6 linked regions of the Homo sapiens genome follow. The protein of the gene in region 3 purifies or fractionates together with the protein of the main gene of each other region. This does not show direct contact. Each region holds a gene or a part of one and is shown on either strand. Other genes may lie near its edges. The genes, in order: METTL14, GTF2H2C, GGPS1, VCPKMT, NMI and NCR3LG1.

Region 1 (3,861 bases), on a different chromosome or scaffold from region 3:
TAAATAATACTGAACAAGTTGATTTCTAGGTATATGTGAGACATTCAAATGGAAGAGGTCATAGGAATAAAATATGAAACTCTAAGGACAGGCAGATCTGGTTTCAAAATACATATTTTAGAGGATTATCACATAAAATCCATGTAAATAGATGAGTTTATCCTGGGATCGTGTCTCAGGATAAAAATGTGGACTGACAGTAAAGCCGGGAAAACATTTACATTTAAAGACTACATATAAAAGAAATTTAAAAACGAGTTGTTCAGTGATGAATGAAGAGAACCAGGAGAGTATGAATGTAATGGAAACCAAGGGAACAGTGAGTTTCAAGGAGAGTGTAATCAGGACCGTTCTGCATTTCTAGAAAAGATGTGGGGCAAGGAAAGGACTGAAACTGGAAGACGTGTTTCTTAGGAAACGGATTAGAATCTTTGCATGTCCCTTTCTGAGTTAATGGTAGTTACTACTCTTAATAATATCTATTTTTCCAAGATTTACCTCTAATTCTTCCTCTTCCTTGAAACTTTTCCTATTAGCTTTAATACTCCTAGCACTTTTATTTATATTTGTATGGCTCCTATAATGTAAAAGTTTTTCCCCTTCCCTGTTTAAAGTGTTATCTGTGTTTATTGTTGAAAAATCAGAAAAGTGCACAGAATGTGGTATTTCTAAGACTTAAGATTAGAGACTTAATGCTCTTGATATTTCTTGCAGAGAAGTTTTCCAGATAGGTATAAATTTACATTCCTTTCAGTAGTGTTTAAGAATGTCTAGTTAGCCATATCCTCATTAAAGTTGAATATTAATATTAAAAACCATTTTTTATCAGTTTGCTCAAAAGAAAAAATTTAAACAATGAATCTGATTATGTTCTTTATTAATAATTAGGCAGAATTTTGTTTTCTCTAGCCAATCCGTGAGGTTTCAGCAGTGAAGGTACAAGAACTTCAATTATATGTGATAAACTAATACAGTTTTTAAAATAAAGAAATTCTATTTTATATGCAAATTCTTGATTTCAGTTTAATTTCACTGTACTTCAACTCTGGCTGGCATACTGAAAAATTTTGTCTGGCCCCAGAGCCCTAAGTTCTTTAACTTTTATGAGATACCGTCCTGAAGGAAGTGCCAGTAGTTAATGTAATAAACAAAATGTAAATAAGAAAAATGTTTGGGTTTCACAGGTATTCTTTTTCATGTTAGAGAGTCGGTAGTGGTCATTGTGTTTTACTTAAGAACACAAGCATTAAAGTACCAACACTTAACTTTTAGAATTAGTGTCAAAAGAGAATAATTTTTTTTTTTTTGGCATTTGAGACTCAAAGTAGTAATCGTAGCAAAATATGTATATTGATTTATTGAGAAGTTCTTCTGTAGACACTGGATATCACAGTCCTCCCGAAACATTTATTGTTATATTTTAATTTTAATTTTGTCCCTAACATTGGGCTTAGTTAAGTGCTTCATTCTTTTTCAGTAAATGATAAAAGATTGCTGGAGAATCTGTCTCAAGCTCCATCTTAAAAGATTGCATAAGTCTATAGCTATTGTTTCCTATAAGCTCTTTCCATATAACAGCAAGTGTATATATGTATATATGTGCACAGGTGTGTATGTTGTTTGTATATAAAGTAACAAAACAATAGAACGAGTAATTTTAAGGATAACATTTATTTTCTGTTAGTTCCTAATGGAAACTAATACACTTAAAGAACACATCTATCCTAATAAATCTTAATTGTTGTTCTTTTGGATTTAGGATGAATGGGAAACAAAATACTTTTATGCAATATCGTTTTGATTTCTTACAGATTATGAAGTTAGAAATTGATGAGATTGCAGCACCTCGATCATTTATTTTTCTCTGGTGTGGTTCTGGGGAGGGGTTGGACCTTGGAAGAGTGGTAAGATGGTGCTTTTATAAAGTGGATTTTTAAATTAATAAGAAAAAAATGTAACAGTATGTTGCATAGGATGTTTGAAAGTGGATGTTATTTTGTCCTTTGTTTCTTAAATAATTCTAAAATAGTGAGAAAAAAAAAATGTCCAGAAAAGAACGTAAGAAAGGCAATACTTGTAAGTTAGTTTACCAGCACTAGGGAGGAATGTGTAGCTCTTTCAAAAGACACTTCATTACAAGTACAGGAAGAGAACAGCTTAAAGATTTGAAACTCCAAATTATACCTCAAAAATGAGCTGCTTGGTATCATTTACAATTCTTTATGAGTAGCTAAAAAGTGTTCTATGAGTAGCTAAAAGTATTCAGGAGCATTGGCTCCTGAAATCCAAATGGAAGTCAAATAAAATTGGAAAAGTAACACAGCATATGGAAGACATGAATGAATGAGAAAGAAGTTATAATACCTGAACTTATTTTAAGTATCTGATATTTAATTGTATTTCACAGCTTTTTTATTTTTATTTTTTTATTGGAGTTTTTTTTTGTTTTTTTTTGTTTTTTTGAGACAAGGTACCAACTCTGTTGCCCAGGCTGGCGTGCAGTGGCACAATTGTGGCTTACTGTAGCCTCGACCTCCTGGACTCAACTCAAGCAGTTTTCCCACATCAGCCTCCTAATAGCTGGGACCACAGGCACACCACCACCCCTGGCTAATTTTTTTAGTATTTGTAGAGATGAGGTCTTGTTATGTTGCCCAGGCTGGCCCCAAACTCCTGGGCTCAAGGGATCCTCCCACCTCAGCCTCCCAAAGTGTTAGGATTACAGGCATGAGCCACCACCCCTGGCCCTGATTGGCCTTCACCAAAAGGAACAAAATAATATATATGCTGTTTTAAACAAGAATAACAACAGTATTATGACTAGGTATCAGGAGTCTTAATTTTGCTCTCAATTCAGCTGCTATGCTGTAACAGTAAGACTTTGGGCAAAAAGATACTCACTCTTGAGGGTCTCAATTTTGTCACATTTTATTGGTTGACACTTCGTTTTTATGACATATTATTTATTATACACCAAACTATCTCATTTAATGATTCCAATTTGGGGAGGTATCCATTTGACAATTGAAAAATTTAAGTAGGATTATATGAGATAATAAGTATGATTATATGGAAATAAGATTGTGCCCAAATTCTGAAATTCTACAATTACTGTATATTCTTTATATAAATAGTAAGGCTGTTGGGTAACATCATTGCTTCCATCATTTATTAACTCCAAGGTAAACTATAACTGTGTTTCAGTTGGATATCTCCATTTTTTTGGTGTTGGCTCTTCAAGATGCTATAGAAAAGTAAGAGCGAAACATACATGTTTTTATAGGTATATTGGTGTTTACTTTGTTTTAACTTTAATATCTGACTTTGATCTTTCCTTTCATTCCCCAAATTAGATTGAAAATGATTAGAAGGTTTTTATCTTTTTTTTTTTTTTTTTTTGAGGCAGAGCCTTGCTCTGTCGCCCACGCTGGAGTGCAGTGGTGCGATCTTGGCTCCCTGCAAAACTCTGCTTCCCAGTTGAAGCAGTTCTCCTGCTTCAGCCTCCTGAGTAGCCATCCAGGAGGTTTTTATCTTATTTACTTAATGTAGCAGTTTATCATACTGGTGAGAGTTCGGCGAAAAATGATTTAAAAAATAATTCAGCATGAGAAATACTCATGAGATTTTGATAAATTAGTGGATTAGGGCATGTAGAATTTAGGTCATAGTGATGTTAATGACACCTGGTGCAAAATAAATATTTAGTAACAGGAACAGATATTGATCTTGATTTTGGAGATTTTAAAATAAAATTCTGCTGGGCGCAGTGGCTCATGTCTGTCATCCCAGCACTTTGAGAGACAGAGGCGGGCAGATCACTTGAGGCCAGGAGTTCAAGACCAGCCTGGCCAACATGGTGAA
Region 2 (4,444 bases), on a different chromosome or scaffold from region 3:
GGTTGGTGGGAGCGGGCCCCTGTAATCCCAGCTACTGGGGAGGCTGAGACAAGAGGACTGCTTGAACCCAGGAGGCACGGAGGCTGCAGTGAGCCGAGATCAGGTCACTGCACTCCAGCCTGGGCAACAGAATGAGACCCTGCCTCAAAAAAGAAAGAAAAGAAAGGAAAGAAAGAGAGAGAGAGAAACGGGCACGGTGGCTCATCCTGTAATCCCAGCACTTTGGGAGGCCGAGGCCAGCAGATCATTTCAGGTCAGGAGTTCAAGACCAGGCTGGCCAACATAGTGAAATGCCGTCTCCACTAGAAATACAAAAATCAGCAGGGCCTAGTGGTGCACACCTGTAATCCCAGCTACTCGGGAGGCTGAGGCAGGAGAATCACTTGAACCTGGGAGGTAGACACTGGAGCGAGCCAAGGTTGTGCCACTGCACTCCAGCCTGGGTGAGAGAGCGAGACTCTGTCATTCATTCATTCATGCACAAATAAATGTCCTCATCACACCTCCATCCTCCCCAATGCAATCTCCCTCCCAACTCCACCACCTCGTGGCTCACTGCAACCTCCACCTCCCGGGTTCAAGTGATTCTCCTGTCTCAGCCTCCCAAGGAGCTGGGATTGCAGGCGCGTGCCACCATGCCCAGCTAATTTTTGTATTTTTAGTACAGTCAGGGTTTTGCCATGTTTTATATTTTTGTAGAGCCAGGGTTTCGCCTGACTTGCCAGGCTGATCTCAAACTCCTGACCTCAAGTGATCTGCCTGTAAACAGAATATTTTTGTTTCTTTTTTTGTTTTAAGGCGGAGTTTCACTCACCACCCAGGCTGGAGTGCAATGGCGCGATCTCGGCTCACTGCAACCTCCGCCTCCGAGTTCAAGTGATCCTCCTGCCTCAGCCTCCCGAGTAGCTGGGATTACAAGAGCCCACCACCACACCTGGCTAACTTTTGTGTTTTTAGTAGAAATGGGGTTTTGCCATGGTGGCCAGGCTGGTCTCGAACTCCTGACCTCAGGTGACCCACTCACCTCGGCCTCCCAAAGTGCTGGGATTACAGGCGTGAGTCACCACACCCAGCCTCAACTGAACATTTTGCTCCTCCCTGTTTTCTGTTACGTATTGTGAACTTTAAAAATGAAAAACTCGCATAACGTTCTCAACGTTTTTAAACTCAAATTCTTCGCAGGGCACAGTGGCTCAAACCTGTAATCCCAGCACTTTGAGAGGCCAAGGCAAAAGGATTGCTTGAGTTCAGGCGCTCAGATCAGCCTGGGCAATAACCTTGTCTCTACAAAACATCAAAAAATTAGCTGGGCGAGGTGGCGAGTACTTGAGTCCCAGCTACTTGGGAAGCAAAAGTGGGAGGATGGCTTGAGCCCAGGAGAGTCGAGGCTACTATGTTCACTACTGCACTCCAGACTGGGTGACAGAGTGAGACCCTATCTCAAAATAAATAAAATAATTACAAATATATAATAAATATTATAAATATAAAAGTAAATAGCAACTGAGAGACTTTTGGCTGACCATATCAAAGGAATTCTTTTTTTTCTTTTTTTTCTGAGACAAGAGTCTTGCTCTGTCGCCCAAGCTTGGAGTGCAGTGACGCAATCTCGGCTCACTGCAACCTCCGCCTCCAGGGTTCAAGCGATTCTACTGTCTCTTCTGTCTCCCGAATAGCTGAGATTAAGGCACACGCCACCACAGCTAACCTTTTTATTTTTAGTAGAGACGGGGTTTCACCAGCCTGTTGGCCAGGCCTGGTCTCGAATTCCTGACCACAACTGGTCCGCCCACCTCGGTCCTCCAAAGTGTTGGGATTACAGGCATGAGTCACCACGCCCGGCTAAAAGGACTTCTTAATTAGAGCTGCCTGCAATGGGAAATCCGACTGGACAGGAGGTATTAAGGTCCCTAAAACTGCAGACGTTCAATGGGAAGTCTGATTGTAAACATGCATGCTGTTTAAAGGATTCATGCATCCTGAAGATGGACTTTGTAAAGATCTCCAATGGCCTGTCACTTCCCAACAGTCCATTTTCTTCTTAAAAATATCACCGAGGCCAGGTGGGTGGCTCACACCTGTAATCCCAGCACTGTGGGAGGCCGAGGCGGGAGGATCACGAGGTCAAGAAATCAAGACCATCCTAGCCAACATGGTGAAACCCCGTCTCTACTGAAAATACAAAAATTAGCTGGGCGTGGTGGCACGCGCCTGTAGTTCCAGCTACTCGGGAGGCTGAGGAAGGAGAATCGCTTGAACCCGGGAGGTGGAGGTTGCAGTGAGCCGAGATCGCGCCGCTGCACTCCAGCCTGGCGACAGGGCGAGACTCCGTCTCGAAGAAAAAAAAATTTTTTTAAGTGATCTGTTTCCTGGAATCCAACCCCAAACAATCCACGTTCCTCAGCATAAGCCTACTGGTGTGATTCCCGTTACATGAGCTCGGAATGCTATCTGCCAACAAATGAGAGCACCAAACATCCCAATTTAAGAAGCTTTTCTTCACACCTTACCAAGCTATGTGAAACTGGCAAGGGTGATTACTGTCCTTGTTTTTCAGGTATGGGATTCAGGCTCAGAGGTTGGTCACTTTCTCAAGCGGGTCACAAACTCGAACCCTGAACCATCATTTCTAAAAGTCGCGCTTTTACTTAGGGAGAGACGGCCTGCAGCTTCCCTCCCTACTCTGCGGCTCCCCAGACGAAAGTTACCTTCCTCTGCCTTCACAAGCTCCTTCACATCCTCCTTCCCTATGAGCCCAGGCAGGGCAATTCAACCTCCGTTCCCCGCCACGAAAACGCTCCCAGCCGCCTAGCTAGTCAGACGGCCTGCCCCACCTCTGCGCCTCACAGACTTCCACACGCGGACTCACCGGCGCCGCTAGAAGGACTCTCAGCCGGAAACTCAGCCCGACACTCCTCTCCGCCGCTTTAGGGGCGCCCCGGAAGTCATTCCGCCGCGCCCTGCGGCCACGCCGAAACGTTCCGGATGCTGCAGAGTGCAGCTGCCGGAGCGGGGCGCTCAGGTGCAGGGCATGGCCTCCGCTGAGTTGGGGCGCGGAAAGGGACGGTGTTCCAGCTGGAATTCGCAGAGAACCGGAAAGAGTGATCGCCATTCGCTCTCGGAAGGTCGAAGGCTCTGCAGCCATCGACCTGGGTTCTGAGGAGCTCGATCTTGTCTTTCTACTTCTAAAAGGTTGGGATGAAGGACCCTGGCCACAGAAGTAAAGCCAGAATTATCCTTGCTTCTTGCTGTGTATTTCAGGACTCCTCCATTGCTCTTGCTGTTCATTCAACAAACATTGAGCATCTACTTTGAGCCTGATGCATGTCTAAGCACTGAGGAAATAACAATGAAAAACTGACAAAAATCCTTGCTCTCGTGGAGTTTTCCTTCTCCAAGGGGAGTCAGTATGAAGAAAAACATATACTATATGAAATGGTGATAATGCTGTGGAGAAAAACTAAGCACTGAAGGGGAGAAGTTTGCAGTTTAAAATAGGGTGGCCAGGCCGGGTGCGATGGTTCACGCCTGTAATCCCAGGCATGGTGATTTGGGAGGCCGAGCGGGGGTGGATCATCGGAGGGCAGGACTTCGAGACCAGCCTGGCCAACATAGTGAATTCCGTCTCTACTAAAAATACAAAAACATTAGCCGGGCGTGCTGGCAGGCGCCTGTAATCCCAGCTACTCGGGAGGCTGAGGCAGGAGAATCGCTTGAATCCAGGAGGCACAGGTTGCAGTGAGCCAACCTTGCACTCCAGCCTGGGTGACAGAGACTTCATCTCAAAAAATAAAATAGGGTGGCCAGAGGAGTCCTCGCTGGGAAGACAGTTAAGCCATGACCTGAATGAGGAAGGGTGTTAACCCTGCTGATACCTAGGGGAAAAGCTCTTCAGACAAAGAGAGCTGCAAGTGCAAAGGCCCTGAGGTAGAAGTGCATTGGGGTCTTTGACGACTGCAGGAGTGAGCAGGGGATGAGTGGTGGAAGCTGCAATCAGAAGGGTAAGGTGGGGAGGAGAGGCTGTGAGCACTGTTAAGAACTTTGGGGGAATTGTGATGGCTTGGACCAGCAGCTGGTGAGAAGTGACTGAATTCTAAATCTTACCAATACACTGGATGTGTGTTATGAGAAAAGAATCAAGGATACCTCCATAGTCTTTAGCTGAGCAACTGAAAGGTTGGGGTTGCAATTATTAAAATGTTGGCGGGGTGGGTAAGATCAATTCAGTTTTGGACAAGTTGTATGACTGCCAATTAACACAAGTGGAATTACTGGCATTTCCCATACTTGAGAAATGGAGAGGCAGTGCACCCCCAGATGAGAAAAGGGTTAGGAATAACACAAAGGAACTGCAGAAGCTAGGGCCTCTTTCCTTCCCCATCAGCATACTCATCCCCTCCATTGCCTTTATTTTATTGTTAAAAATTTTTCCCATCTCTGTTGT
Region 3 (3,593 bases):
TTAATCCCCAAGAAATTAATAGCTGTCGCATAAAAATATTCCTAGTTCTTGATTGAATTTAGTCCTCATGCAAGATATTATTTTATATTGAGGTTGCTAAATATTTATTAGTTGTGAAAATTAACACACCTGAGACTTTCATAATCTGTTAATTAAACTGAGTAAGTTTTGAATAGTTCAAATAAGTGAAATTTTCAATTTTTTTATTAGATTATTATTGAAGTGACAGAAATGTTGCATAATGCCAGTTTACTCATCGATGATATTGAAGACAACTCAAAACTCCGACGTGGCTTTCCAGTGGCCCACAGCATCTATGGAATCCCATCTGTCATCAATTCTGCCAATTACGTGTATTTCCTTGGCTTGGAGAAAGTCTTAACCCTTGATCACCCAGATGCAGTGAAGCTTTTTACCCGCCAGCTTTTGGAACTCCATCAGGGACAAGGCCTAGATATTTACTGGAGGGATAATTACACTTGTCCCACTGAAGAAGAATATAAAGCTATGGTGCTGCAGAAAACAGGTGGACTGTTTGGATTAGCAGTAGGTCTCATGCAGTTGTTCTCTGATTACAAAGAAGATTTAAAACCGCTACTTAATACACTTGGGCTCTTTTTCCAAATTAGGGATGATTATGCTAATCTACACTCCAAAGAATATAGTGAAAACAAAAGTTTTTGTGAAGATCTGACAGAGGGAAAGTTCTCATTTCCTACTATTCATGCTATTTGGTCAAGGCCTGAAAGCACCCAGGTGCAGAATATCTTGCGCCAGAGAACAGAAAACATAGATATAAAAAAATACTGTGTACATTATCTTGAGGATGTAGGTTCTTTTGAATACACTCGTAATACCCTTAAAGAGCTTGAAGCTAAAGCCTATAAACAGATTGATGCACGTGGTGGGAACCCTGAGCTAGTAGCCTTAGTAAAACACTTAAGTAAGATGTTCAAAGAAGAAAATGAATAATGTTAAGCCATTCTTGATTGGACCTCATAGCTTATTTTAGTTAATCTTTTTTTTGTCTTTTAGCCTTACCACCTTTTAAAAAATTTGTTATTCTCCAGAAACAGTAAATAGGTGAGTAGGGGTGGTGCAAGTGAATTCGTTTTCATTTAGAAGCCCCTCTGTACAGATAATCAAAATTCAAAGTTGAAAGAATCAAAAGCAGCCACAGTTATGTAGGTCTGATTTGAATGTCATAATTGCAGTGACAGGACATTGCCACCAACTCTATCCTACTACCATCAATGTTGTGTTTATTCCGTCAATAAAAAAGACTTGCTTCCAGGAATTTTTATCCATACACTTTCTAACTGTACTATCTGGGCAGTTCCAAGCCAGTTTCTATTAGCTAGCTGGACCAAAGACCACAAATCTCTTTTTTTCCTAAACGCTGCTGTAAGGAATATCTCACTTTTCCCCCCGGAAACACCCTCACTGAAGTCTTCTATGAAAAGGCTGATAATGGGCTGGGCGCGGTGGCTCACGCCTGTAATCCCAGCACTTTGGGAGGCCGAGGCGGGCAGATCACGAGGTCAGGAGATCGAGACCATCCTGACACGGTGAAACCCTGTCTCTACTAAAAATACAAAAAATTAGCTGGGCGTGGTGGTGGGCGCCTGTAGTCCCAGCTACTCGGGAGGCTGAGGCAGGAGAATGGTGTGAACCCAGGAGGCGGAGCTTGCAGTGAGCCGAGATAGTGCCTCTGCACTCCAGCCTGGGTGACAGAGCGAGACTCCGTCTCAAAAAAAAGGGCTGATAATGATAAACAGTGAGCACTCCGGTCCTTTTTCTTAGGTTTTCCTTTTTTCCTTCCTCTCCACCCCACAAGTTTTGCTTTTTAACCAAGGTGTCTCTGCTTGATGAAATTCACATGCTAGTCTAAATCTTTTTTTCTCCCTTGTAACATTTATGTGCCCCAAACTGGTTAGTATATGGGTACAGCATTCCCTTTCCAATTGGGAAGCGGAAAAAGAGAGTATGGGATATTTTAGAAGGGAGCCTTTGAACCTTATTATATTTCCCCATCATTGATAGTGACAATCTTAAAAGGGTTGTTTTCTTACCTTAAGTACAAAAGCATGGAAAAATGCGCTTTTCCTTCCCGCCCACATCACCACCCCGACTTGAAGACAGTAGGTGCTTGAATGGAAAGTGAGTAGGCATCTTTAATCGCCCTGATTAAAGGAAAGTGTTAGCCTGAGAGGGCCTGACTGAAAAGTAACCAAAGGCTTAATATCAAACACTAATTAGCTTTTTAGTGCCTTAACCCTGACCTGGTTACCAGTTTTCTGTAGTTTCTACACCCAAGCCACTGAAGTCATCTGTGGCCCAAGAGGTAGGACAAAAAAAAAAAAAAAAAAAGCTGATTTCAATATTTGATTTGTTGACATCCCAAAATGAAAGTTTTATGTTTCCCTTAGAAACATGTTTTGCTTGGTTCTATAGTATGTTACTTAGGATCTATTTACCATATATTTGTATGAGAAATCCTCACCCAAGCATTCAACCTAAATCTTTGAAAAGTTGGGTGCTGTCTTTAGTAACTTTTAAAATAGTTTAAATCTCCCATTTTAATAGTGATAAGGAAACCTGTTAAAATCATGGCTATTGATGTTATAGTATGGAAAGTTGAACTTTATGAACCCATACTTTTAAAAAGCATTTTTAAAAATCTAACACTGACTATAGAAACAAATTAAAATGTCTACCTTTAAGTATAAAAATTGCTTAAGTAGATTTGTTCCTTGCCTATCAAATTAATTTTGGCCTGGTGTTCTTCATTATTCATTTGTTAATTTTATCTTGCCTTTGTCAATAACAGAAATGTTTGTCATTGAATTGGGAATTTTTTTTTTTTTTTTTGAGACGGAGTTTCACTCTTGTTGCCCAGGCTGGAGTGCAATGGCGTGATCTCAGCTCACTGCAACCTCCACCTCCCGGGTTCAAGCGATTCTCCTGCCTCAGCCTCCTAAGTAGCTGGGATTACAGATGCCTGCCATGTTGCCTGGCTAATTTTTTTTTTTTTTTTTTTTTTAAGTAGAGATGGGGTTTCACCATGTTGGCCAGGCTGGTGTTGAACTTCTGACCTCAGGTGATCCAGCTGCCTCGGCCTCCCAAAGTACTGGGATTACAGGCATGAGCCACCGCACCCAGCCAAATTGGGGACTTTTAACAGTCATTTTACCTGTAGAATAATCAAAACTCTTCACTTGATCTGTAGTCATAGCTATTAACACAGAAAAATGAATGCCAGTTATGTTGCCATAAACCACCTTCTGAACTTGGCAAGATCTTAAAACCATCAACTGTTCTCTGTTCACTCTGTGAACTTCTTTCTACTTTACTTCCTTCTCTACCTCACCTGTACTCTATAGTCACTCACTTCAATGACACTTAAAGAGCATTCACTCTCAGATCACTTTTCTCCTTTCCTTGCCCATTCTTATCTTGCCAACTCCCAGTCCTGGATAAATCCAAACATCCACGTTCTTTGTGCATCCGTGTTGCTCAGTGCTGCTGGGGAACATTTTCACAACTGCTGTTGGAACCATTGTGAGTTTACACATTCCAGCCTCTGCAACGCC
Region 4 (3,079 bases), on a different chromosome or scaffold from region 3:
TTCTGTGTTTTTCTCTACATATTTATGAAACCTCCAACCTAGATACCTGTCTATTTTTAGGGTCTTTTTTTTTGTTTTTTAAACTTTTTGTCTGAAATAGTTAGAAAAGACTTACAGGAAGTTGCAAAATATAGTATATAGGGTTTTATGTATCTGTCACTCTTCTTCCCCTAGTGATCACCCAAACCCTTATATGGGCACAAATCTATCACATTGTGAGTGACTCCTTTTGAGGGTACATCTATATAGGCCTGCAGTTTTGTCTGCTGGAAGGACTACTTTGGTTTAATGAGAAAGCAGGTATATGACTGCCTCAGGTAACAAATACTAAAATGTTTGTTTATTTTCATGTTTTTCTTGAATATGAAAAATGTTCATGAACTTTTGAAATGATGCATAATGAAAATTTCGTACTGTTAAACAGCTTTTATTGGGGTAAAGCATATGTAAAATGCATATGTATCAGTCAAGTGCTGAGCTTAATTTTTCATATGTATACACCCAAGTAACTACTTACCAACATAAAGATAGAGGACATTTTCAGGATCTTGGAAGGTTTGCACACTGCCCTTTCCCAGGCAATACTCAAAAGGTAACCACTGACCAGGCGCGGTGGCTCACGCCTGTAATCCCAGCACTTTGGGAGGCCGAGATGGGCAGATCATGAGGTCAGGAGTTCGAGACCAGCCTGGTCAACATGGTGAAACCCTTTCTTTACTAAAAATACAAAAATTAGCTGGGTGTGGTGTCGTTTGCCTGTAATCCCAGCTACTCAGGAGGCTGAGGCAGGAGAATCACTTGAACCCAGGGAGGTGGAGGTTGCAGTGAGCCAAGATCGCACCACTGCACTCCAGCCTGGGTGACAGAGTGAGACTCTCAAAAAAAAAGTAACCAGCATTCTGACTTCTGTCACCCACAGGTCAGTTCATATTATTGAATTTGAAGTATGTCTCTTTTAAATTTATAGCTCCTTCAGCTAGATTTTGACTTTGAAAAAATTCCTTTGGAAAAACATGATGAAGAGTATCGAAGTGAAGATATTCATATTATATACATCAGAAAGAAAAAATCGGTAAATAACATTCTCAGTTCTTCATTCTCCAAGGAGGTTTCATCAGCTGGACACTATTTCAGGGCATATGTGTGGTATGGGCGTTGATTTTGATGTGGAGAAACAGCTCTAATGATTCACTGGACTCAGGCAGTAACTTCATTGTCAAGATAATTTAATCTATCTTGCCTTGGGTTTTTGCTCTAAAGCCAGGCTTTTTTTTTTTTTTTTTTTTTTTTTCTCGTATTTTTTAAGTAGAGACACGTTTCACCGTGTTGCCTAGACTGGTGTCGAACTCCTGGGCTCAAGTGATCCGCCCACTTCGGCCTCCCAAAGTTCTGAGATTACAGGCATCAGCCACCATACCTGGCCAGGCTTCGCTTTTAAAGGCCTTTTCCAGCTTCTCCATAGGCGTAAATTGTATAGCTCTATAATTGGGTATTACCTCAGACAAGTTATTAGCTATTTATAAGTTTCTTTTATCTCTGTGAGATTTTAAAATGCCTGCTCTTACCTTTGTGAACTTTTCCTTATTAAAAATTGTTTACAGGAAATGAAATACAACAAGGCAGATGAGTCCATAAAAGATAAATGCACTCAATTAAGTAGAATTTATGTATTTTCCCGCTTCTTGGTGCATGTTTTACCCTGTATAACAATCACATTTTATGCAGGTTGCCTCAGTGACACCTAGGGTTTGAGCCTGTAGAAAGAGGGAAGAATTGTACTTCATCCTTTTTTTTTTTTGAAATAGGGTCTCACTCTGTCATCCAGGCTGGAGTACAGTGGTGCAATCTCGGCTTGCTGCAGCCTCTGCCTTGCAGGCTCAAGAAGTGATCCTCCCACCTCAGCCTCCTGAGTACCTGGGACCATAGGCATGCACCACCATGCCCAGCTAATTTTTGTATTTTTTTTGTTGTTGTTGAGACAGGGTTTTGCCATGTTGTCCAGGCTGATTTTGCACTCCTGGACTCCAGTGACCTGCCCACCTCGGCCTCCCAAATTGTTGGGATTACAGGTGTGAGCTGCTGCGCCTGGCCTTTCATCTATTTTTGTATTTCCAGCACCTTTGGTATATGTGACTAGTGTAAGGCAGGGAGATGATTAGTTTTATGAATTAAGGATGCTAGATTCAATAAGCCCACACTTTTTCTATCATCTTTGCTTTGATTATGTTTGTGGTAAAGTTTTCTGATTATATGAATTCTAGTCAAAAGCAAATAAAACTTAGGGAACAGAAGTAGGTGTTAGGACTAAATCTAAGTAAAAAGGCAGCAGCGGGATTATTCAGATTAACATTTATGTGGCATGGTGCCACAGATACAAAAAAAACTGTTTTGTGCTTTAAGGGATCTAGTGTTAACTGAAGCTGTTGTGCAGTTTTAAAAGTAGAATTTTTTGGAGGCAGAAAGATTTTGTGTTTCCTAAATATAGAGGCTTTTTTTTTTTTTTCGGCCAAAAAAAAAAACTCTTATTTTTTAGTTGATGTAACTCACATACCATAAAATTCACGCTTTTAAGGTGTACAATTTGGTGGTTTTTAGTATATTCACATAGTTGTGTAAATTACCACTTTCTAATTTTTAATGATTTCACCCCCCAGAGAAGCCTCTTACCCATTAGCAGTCACTCCCTGTTACCCCCGTCCCCAGCTGCTGGCAGCCACTAATCTCTATGGATTTGCCTATTCTGCACATGTCATATGTAACAAGTCACATACTGTGTGGCCTCTTGTGACTGTCTTCTTTCACTCAGCACAGTATTCTCGAGCCTTATCTACATTGTAGCACACATTAGCACTTAACTCCTTTTTGTGGCTGAATAATATTCCTTTATGTGGCTGTACCACACCTTATCCATCCATTGATGAGATGAATAATGCTGCTATGGACGTTCATCTACAAATTTTTGTGTGAACATGTTTTCAGACCTCTTGAGTATATACCTAGAGGAGAACTGCAAGGTTATATGGGAACTCTGTTTAACTTTTTGAAGACTTGCCAAACTGTGTTCCTAATCTACCATACC
Region 5 (3,861 bases), on a different chromosome or scaffold from region 3:
GGAAGGGTATGTGGCTGAGCTGAAGTAATATATGAATTCTGGAAGATTGTTAGGCTTATCTCTTAAGAGATAAGAGAAAAGATTCATCTTATGAGAAGAATCTAGAACTTGAGAACTTCTACATTGTGATTTTGCTGATATACTTTGACATTAATATATTCTACTTTGGGACCAAGAGCAGTGGCTCATCCTGATAATACCAGAACTTTGTCTGGGAGTCCGATGCAGGAGGATTGCTTGAGTCCAGGAGTTCCAGAGCAGCCTGGGTAACAAAGTGAGAGCTCGTCTCTACAAAAAGTTAAAAAAATTAGCTAGGCGTGGTGGCATGCACCTGTAATCATAGCTATTCTGGAAGCTGAGGTGGGAGGATCTCTTGAGCCCAGGAGTTTGAGGTTACAGTGAGCTATGATCACATCACTGCATTCCAGCTTCAGTGACAGAATGAGATCTGGTCCTCCTTCCCCCTGACCCCCCAAATTATATATTCTACTTTGGTAGCAAGACCATTATCACTTGGAATCACCGCCCGCCAAATTTTTAAAATTAGACCCTTTAATATTAAAGAAAATTAAAAATATTCAGGATAATTTGTTCTTAAACCAAAAGCATAACAATTCTTAAAATATTGGAAATTAATACTTCCTTCCTGAATTATTTTTCAGTTGCTCAAAATGTGGTAAGCATGAGTAAACATCATGTACAGATAAAAGATGTAAATCTGGAGGTTACGGCCAAGCCAGTTCCATTAAATTCAGGAGTCAGATTCCAGGTAACAGGATGATTAAAATTTTTTGGATTTCTGTTCATCACAAGCACTTCTCTCATCCATATTTCTGAACATCAAATCATTTTCCAGGTTTATGTAGAAGTTTCTAAAATGAAAATCAATGTTACTGAAATTCCTGACACATTGCGTGAAGATCAAATGAGAGACAAACTAGAGCTGAGCTTTTCAAAGTCCCGAAATGGAGGCGGAGAGGTGGACCGCGTGGACTATGACAGACAGTCCGGGAGTGCAGTCATCACGTTTGTGGAGATTGGAGGTACTCAAGGGTGTAGAAGGTTAACAGACACTCTGCCATTTCAGTCATGTTCTGTTGTTTCTGAAAGTATTCCTATTCTACTTCTTTTATTTGGAATGTATTAGCATGATAATTGGGGATTTTAAAAAACCTTATAAAATAGTAGAGTGTAGGAAATTATTTCCAGGGACAGTACTAGGAAAGATAATATTGCTACAAATAGGCAGGGTGCAGTGGCTCACCCCTGTAATCCCAGCACTTTGGGAGGCGGAGGCAGGCGGATCACTTGAGGTCAGGAGTTCAAGACCAGCCTGTCCAACATGGCGAAACCCCATCTCTACTAAAAATACAAAAATTAGCCAGGCATGGTGGCAAGTGCCTGTAATCCCAGCTACTTGGGAGGCTGAGGCAGGGAGAATCACTTGAACCCAGGAGGTGGAGGTTGCAGTGAGCTGAGATCACCAGGCATAGTGGTGCGTGCCTGTGGTCCCAGCTACTCAGGAGGCTGAGGTGGGAGGATTACTTGAGGCCAGGAGGTTGAGGCTGCAGTGACCTGTGATTGCACCACTGCACTACAGCCTGGGAGACAGAGTGAGACCCTGTCTCAAAAAACAAAATTAAAAAAAAAAATTGATGGATTAGATTTTTTCATGACAAAGTAATACATGCTTTTTTAAGGAAGGTGAAATAATACAGAAGAGCAAACATTTAGTAAAAATGAGACATTTCGGCCGGGCCCGGTGGCTCATGCCTGTAATCCCAGCACTTTGGGAGGCCGAGGCAGGCAGATCATGAGGTGAGGAGTTCGAGACCAGCCTGACTAACATGGTGAAACCCCGTCTCTACTAAAAATACAAAAAAATTAGCCAGGTGTGGTGGCGCATGCCTGTAATCCCAGCTACTCGGGGGGCTCAGGCAGGAGAATAGCTTGAACCCAGGAGGTGGAGGTTGCAGTGAGCCGAGACTACGCCACTGCACTCCAGCTTGGGCGACAGAGTGAGACTCCGTCTCAAAAAAAAACAAAAAGAGACATTTCCTCAAACTTCCCTTTCTCCTACTATTTAGTTAGTTATGGTTATTTGGGTGTCTTTCCAGGCTTTTCTCTGGGCACATTAAAACATGTCAATATCCTTTTTTTTTTTTTTTTTTTTTTTTTTTTTGTGAGACAGAGTCTTGCTCTGTCGCCCGGGCTGGAGTGCAGTGGCACTATCTCAGCTCACTGCAACCTCCGCTTCCCGGGTTCAAGCAATTCTCCCACCTCAGCCTCCCGAGTAGCTGGAATTACAAGTGCATGCCACCATGCCTGACTAATTTTTGTATTTTTGGTAGAGACGGGGTTTCACCATGTTGGTCAGGTTGGTCTCGAACTCCTGACTTCAAGTGATACGCCCGCCTTGGCTTCCCAAAGTGCTGGGATTACAAGCATGAGCCGCCGCTCCTGGCCCAATATGCATTTTTGACCTGAGCTTTTGGATGATGTTTAGGACATCCTGGTGGGATGTGTCAGGGAGAGCTATAAAAGGAAGGGGTCTTGAGGGCTACAGTAATATGTTGTCTTGGAAATGAACAATAACTTGGTGGAAACTTCCATAGTCAAGCATCCAGATTTTAATTTGCCAAATTCATATATTCATTTAGCCTGTTTGGTGTTAGTTTGTCTATATCTTGGATTTTAAAAAATCTGGCCAGGCGCAGTGGCTCATGCCTATAATCCCAGCACTTTGGGAGGCGGAGGCGGGTGGATCACTTGAGGCCAGGAGTTCAAGACCAGCCTGGCCAACATCGCGAGACCCCTTCTCCACCAAAAATACAAAAATTAGCGGATGTGCTGGCTCACGCCTATAGTCCCAACTACTTGGGAGGCTGAGGCAGGAGAATTGCTTGAACCTGGGGGGTGGAGGTTGCAGGGAGCTGAGATTGCATCACTGCACTCCAGCCTGGGTGACAGAGTGAGACTCGGTCTCAAAAAAACCGAAATAAAATAAATAAAATAAAATAAACTAGAATGCAATTTATAACTCTACTGTGAGAGATAATACTAGCTTTGGAACCTGTGTCCTTGGGCCATCTGGGGATGTTCTCCTAGAGGTTACATCTAGCCAGATGGGAAAAATACTTCTGCAGGTTATAGGTTATCCAGCAGGTAACTACTGAAGGATGTGAAGGTATTCTGGAGATAAATATGCCAGATACTTCATAAACTGTGTCTTACTGACTCATCACAATAATCTACAGGGTAGGTACTGTAATTATGCTTATTTTACAGAAAAAGAAACTGAGGCTTTAAGAAGTCAAGCAACATATCCAAGGCCACATAGCTCATAAGTAGCAGAGCTAGGACTGAAGCTGGTCTATTTGACTCAGGACCTGTACTCTTTTTTTTTTTTTTAACTGTGATAAAATATATATAACATAAAATTTACCATTTTAACAATTTTTAAATGTACAATTCAAGGGTACTAAGTACATTCACAATGTTGTACAACCATCACCACTATCCATCTCTAGAACTTTTTAATCACCCCAAACTGAAACTCTGTACCCATTTAACAATAATTCTCCATTACCTCTTCTTCCAGCCCCTGGTAACCATCATTCTACTTTCTGTCTCTATGAATTTGCCTATTCTAGGTACCTCATTCAAGTGGAATTATACAATATTTGTCCTTTTCCTGTCTGTCTTATTTTGGTTAGCATAATGTTATCAGGGTCCATCCATGTTGTGGTATGTATCAGAATTTCATCCTTTTTAAAGGCTGAATAATATTCTCTGTGTGTGTGTGTATTTTATATATCCATTTTGTTGATCTGTTCATCTGTTGGTGGATGCTTGGGTTGC
Region 6 (3,500 bases), on a different chromosome or scaffold from region 3:
TCTACAACACTGACAAAGATCTGGGTTGTCTCGCAAGGCAAAGAAGGCTTGCACATAAGGAACCTCGGACCATTTGCCCTCCTGTCTGCAGAAAACATCTAGTTGTTGAATAGTATTAATATTAACACTTCCCTCAGGAGGCCAAGCCTCCCCATCCTGCAGCTGGTAAGACGGCCATGCCCGAGTGCAAAAGAATATGAGGTGCTCTTTCTTCAGAGTCTGAGTGTCAAAGGAGTTCCAGTGTTTCAGAATGCACTTGAGAGGAGTATAGGCTGAAGATGATTTGTTACATATCTAGAAAAAGAGGAGAGAAAAGGCATCCCTTAGTCTCCTTTGTCCTTCTGGAGTGATCGACAGCAGAGAGAAAAATGGAAGGGGCGTCCCCCTTCTCCTCTTCCCTCCCATTTCCTCAGGTTCCTGGTGACCATTATAGGTGCTGCCCATGGATCAAAGCATGACCTTCACCCATGAATCCGGAGGAGCTAGCTTGTGCTCACCTGCACAAGGTCCTAGCTCTCTGCCCTGCTGGTTTCCTAGACCTACTTGGCCCATAAGGCTCCTGAGATTCCCTAGAACCATGGGAGAGATTGTGCAGTAGTTGGATTGGGGCAAGACCCTTTAAGGAAGGGAACATCTTAACTCTATCCTTACATCCTCTTACTACCACCCTGGCAAAGTTATGAATTCCTAGAGAATGAGACTGATTGATTTCTAAACACAAGATCCCTTTCTCACTTAGATGCCAGTGTAGCTGTGTACAGAACAGATGCCTCAAAAGAATGTAAAAATTGAATGGCTGTTCTCCCTCCAATGGGGATAACACTGAGGCTAAAATATGTCTTCCCAGGGTAGCTTCTTCCTGGCTGTTGAAAGAGGAGTTTTTATGCTTACAAATAGGGCATGGGGCCTGATCACTGAAAGAGGGACATAAGAGAGAAAGGAATCAGGGAACTAGAGGTTTTGGGCAAAGGGCTGACAAGGCTTCTCACAGAGAAAAATCCCATCCCACTAGGTAGCACTATAGGGTTTGAAATGTTAGGAAAAAACTCTGACTACAAATTCTTTCCAAGCAGAGGTCAGAAAGGGAGGTTTGGGGCTTAATAGGCTGTCCCCATAATATGCTGTCCAGTAGAAAAAAAACTAGTTTGTCTCATAGAGGGAATGCTTAAATTCATTGGGCAATGCTGAGCTCTTACATGAAGGAAAAACAACCTGATGGAGAAAAGGGTATTCACTTGGGGTGAAACATCCCCCTATAGAGTGCCATGAATGTCTATCACTGGGGGACAAAAAGGCCCTAAGTGAAAATTTAGGCTGAAATCTTGAAGTCCCCCTGTCTCAAGGAAATCACAAAAACAACAATTATTTGAGTTACATTCCTCGTTACTAAGGCACTTGCTGACTTTGCTTAACAGGATTATCTCCCCAGGCTATAAAGACACCCACAACATTGCATACAAAGAAGGAATAGGAGACATAGTAGCTGCGAAAAGCAAGGAAGAAAATGCAATAGAAAAGTCTGGAAGTCCTGGTGCCAACATTCTGACGGGCTGTCGGGGGCTGGAGTTAGTCCAGGGACCTTCAGGTAACACTGAGGAGTAGCCTCAAACAGAAACCTTCAGTTGCCCCAGGACCTCCTTCTAGCCCATGTGACAGCTAAGTCCTCTGTGAAAGGAAACTGGATTAGAACAGAGCCAACATTCCCAACACCTGAGGGTGAAGGGGGACTGACAAAGTCCTCTCCAGCAAGCCTGTATCTTAAGTCTCATAAGGTTGGCAGCCGCTCTAAAAGCTTTTAACTGGCCCAGTGTTTTGTTCAGTCTTCAGGAAAAAATCTGAGGACAAGAAGCCTCTGAAATGAAAGTAAAGAGTTTGGAGGTCCGCTCCTACTCACCCTTCCAATGTTTCCTGGCCAATGCACCAAAATGTTAGTCTCGTCAATGCACCACAATGTAGCAGTCTCTCATTGCCCAAGGTATCACCTGAAGTTCTTTGTCTCATGACCAAGAAAATTAAGGAGCGCGGACCCCAAAGATGAAGTTGAAGTGAAAGTTTAATAAGCAAAAGAAGAAAGCACTCCACTGCAGAGAGGGGGCCCAAAAGAGGGTTGCCATTTCACAGCTGAATACAAAGGCATAAGGCACACATTTCTGGTAGCTCCACCCCATCCTCGTAGTGTGCATGCAAGCCCTTAGCTTGAGTTACTCCATGTGGCTTTGTTCCCCTTACTGTGCATGTGTCAGGGGATGGAATTTTCTATTGTGAGCATGTCTAGGCAAGTCTCCTGTGTAGCCTTGTTTTAATGTATGTGGCTGTGGGCATGTTTTAGGCAAGCCCCCCTGTACAAGTTCCCTTATCTGCAGTTTGATTTTTCAGGCTGTTCTTTTGTTTGAAGGAATTTGACTGAGGGCCCACCCTAACTGCCTGCCTGACTAGTTTCTTCCTTCCTCCTCTCTCAATAGCACCTGAATATCAGAACCAGAGAAAGGCAAGAAATATGACAACAGTCACAAATACCACAAGAAACATTTGAAAACCACTTTTTATCCAGTTTTCTCATGGCCTAGATCCAACAGGAATAAGTCCCGTGAATCTAAATGGCCAACTTTAGATAAAGGGCCATTTTTCTTAATTGACTGATTATTCCACTTCTCCTAAATTATTTATAATGAGATGTACTGGCTGTTGTGCAGATTTTGCCTTGACAGGCCCATAAATAATTGAGGGCCCTTTTATTATCTAAAACTATTTTAACCAACACATTTACATAGGTCTCTTGGGCCTCTAAAGCTTGAGCTGTTTTATTTACTATTTGGGCCATAGTCAGGGATAAAAATGTTTAGAAACATGTTTTAGTTTAGAAATACCTAGTGAGGGTTAGAAATTCTTAGTCAAACTAGTGAGATCTGGTGGTCAGTTATTGATCAGATAAAATATGAGGAATTCCCCTCTCTAAGCCATAGTTTCTAAATGTGTGAGAAAAACAAGCAGTCCACACATAGTTCAGGGCCTGGTCTGAACACTAAAGTCTGGTTCATTCACAGAGATATAATACTTGTTTAGTATGGAGAAAGAGAGGGAGGCTTTACAACACATCACCCCAGAGTCACAAACCACCATACAGAGGTCAGATGGTATGTGACAGCTAGGTCCTCTGTGATAGGAAACTGGATTGGAACACAGCCAACATTCCCAACACCTGATGGTGAAGAGGGACTGACAAAGTCCTTTCCAGCAGGCCTGTCCCTTGAGGCTTGTAAGGTTGGCAGCAGCTGCTCTAAAAGCTTTTTACTAGCCCAAGACACAGGGCTGAACTTTGCTTTGGAGCCCCTTACCTTTTTCCAAGGAATCAAAACAATTAATAAAACCAGTCCAACACCAATGAATGAAATAGGCCACCAATGAATGGAAAAATTATCTGTCTTCTCAGTTTCTGCAGAGAGAGAAGGAAAACATTAGCAGGAAACCTACTGGCAAGGGCCAGAGAAACCACACAACTG

The links.
Region 1: the proteins of GGPS1 (region 3) and METTL14 fractionate together in Homo sapiens (co-fractionation; one large-scale study listed by BioGRID). This does not show direct contact.
Region 2: the proteins of GGPS1 (region 3) and GTF2H2C fractionate together in Homo sapiens (co-fractionation; one large-scale study listed by BioGRID). This does not show direct contact.
Region 4: the proteins of GGPS1 (region 3) and VCPKMT fractionate together in Homo sapiens (co-fractionation; one large-scale study listed by BioGRID). This does not show direct contact.
Region 5: the proteins of GGPS1 (region 3) and NMI fractionate together in Homo sapiens (co-fractionation; one large-scale study listed by BioGRID). This does not show direct contact.
Region 6: the proteins of GGPS1 (region 3) and NCR3LG1 purify together in Homo sapiens (affinity purification with mass spectrometry; one large-scale study listed by BioGRID and IntAct). This does not show direct contact.

Annotation. Positions count from the first base shown.
Region 1 is NC_000004.12:118,698,739-118,702,599, forward strand, and holds part of METTL14 (N(6)-adenosine-methyltransferase non-catalytic subunit METTL14), read left to right. Parts: intron 1-1,811; coding exon 1,812-1,904; intron 1,905-3,861. UniProt on the Homo sapiens protein: The METTL3-METTL14 heterodimer forms a N6-methyltransferase complex that methylates adenosine residues at the N(6) position of some mRNAs and regulates the circadian clock, differentiation of embryonic stem cells and cortical neurogenesis.
Region 2 is NC_000005.10:69,558,668-69,563,111, reverse strand, and holds the start of GTF2H2C (general transcription factor IIH subunit 2-like protein), read right to left. Parts: upstream 2,922-4,444; 5' UTR 2,709-2,921; exon of another isoform or gene 2,511-2,708; intron 440-2,510; 5' UTR 342-439; intron 1-341. UniProt on the Homo sapiens protein: Component of the core-TFIIH basal transcription factor involved in nucleotide excision repair (NER) of DNA and, when complexed to CAK, in RNA transcription by RNA polymerase II.
Region 3 is NC_000001.11:235,341,801-235,345,393, forward strand, and holds the end of GGPS1 (geranylgeranyl pyrophosphate synthase), read left to right. Parts: intron 1-210; coding exon 211-972; 3' UTR 973-2,732; downstream 2,733-3,593. UniProt on the Homo sapiens protein: Catalyzes the trans-addition of the three molecules of IPP onto DMAPP to form geranylgeranyl pyrophosphate, an important precursor of carotenoids and geranylated proteins.
Region 4 is NC_000014.9:50,110,608-50,113,686, reverse strand, and holds part of VCPKMT (protein N-lysine methyltransferase METTL21D), read left to right. Parts: intron 1-174; coding exon of another isoform or gene 175-177; exon of another isoform or gene 178-967; coding exon 968-1,072; exon of another isoform or gene 1,073-1,601; coding exon of another isoform or gene 1,602-1,745; exon of another isoform or gene 1,746-3,079. UniProt on the Homo sapiens protein: Protein N-lysine methyltransferase that specifically trimethylates 'Lys-315' of VCP/p97; this modification may decrease VCP ATPase activity.
Region 5 is NC_000002.12:151,272,666-151,276,526, reverse strand, and holds part of NMI (N-myc-interactor), read left to right. Parts: intron 1-662; coding exon 663-769; intron 770-856; coding exon 857-1,043; intron 1,044-3,861. UniProt on the Homo sapiens protein: Acts as a signaling pathway regulator involved in innate immune system response.
Region 6 is NC_000011.10:17,368,800-17,372,299, reverse strand, and holds part of NCR3LG1 (natural cytotoxicity triggering receptor 3 ligand 1 precursor), read right to left. Parts: intron 3,434-3,500; coding exon 3,336-3,433; intron 295-3,335; coding exon 1-294. UniProt on the Homo sapiens protein: Triggers NCR3-dependent natural killer cell activation.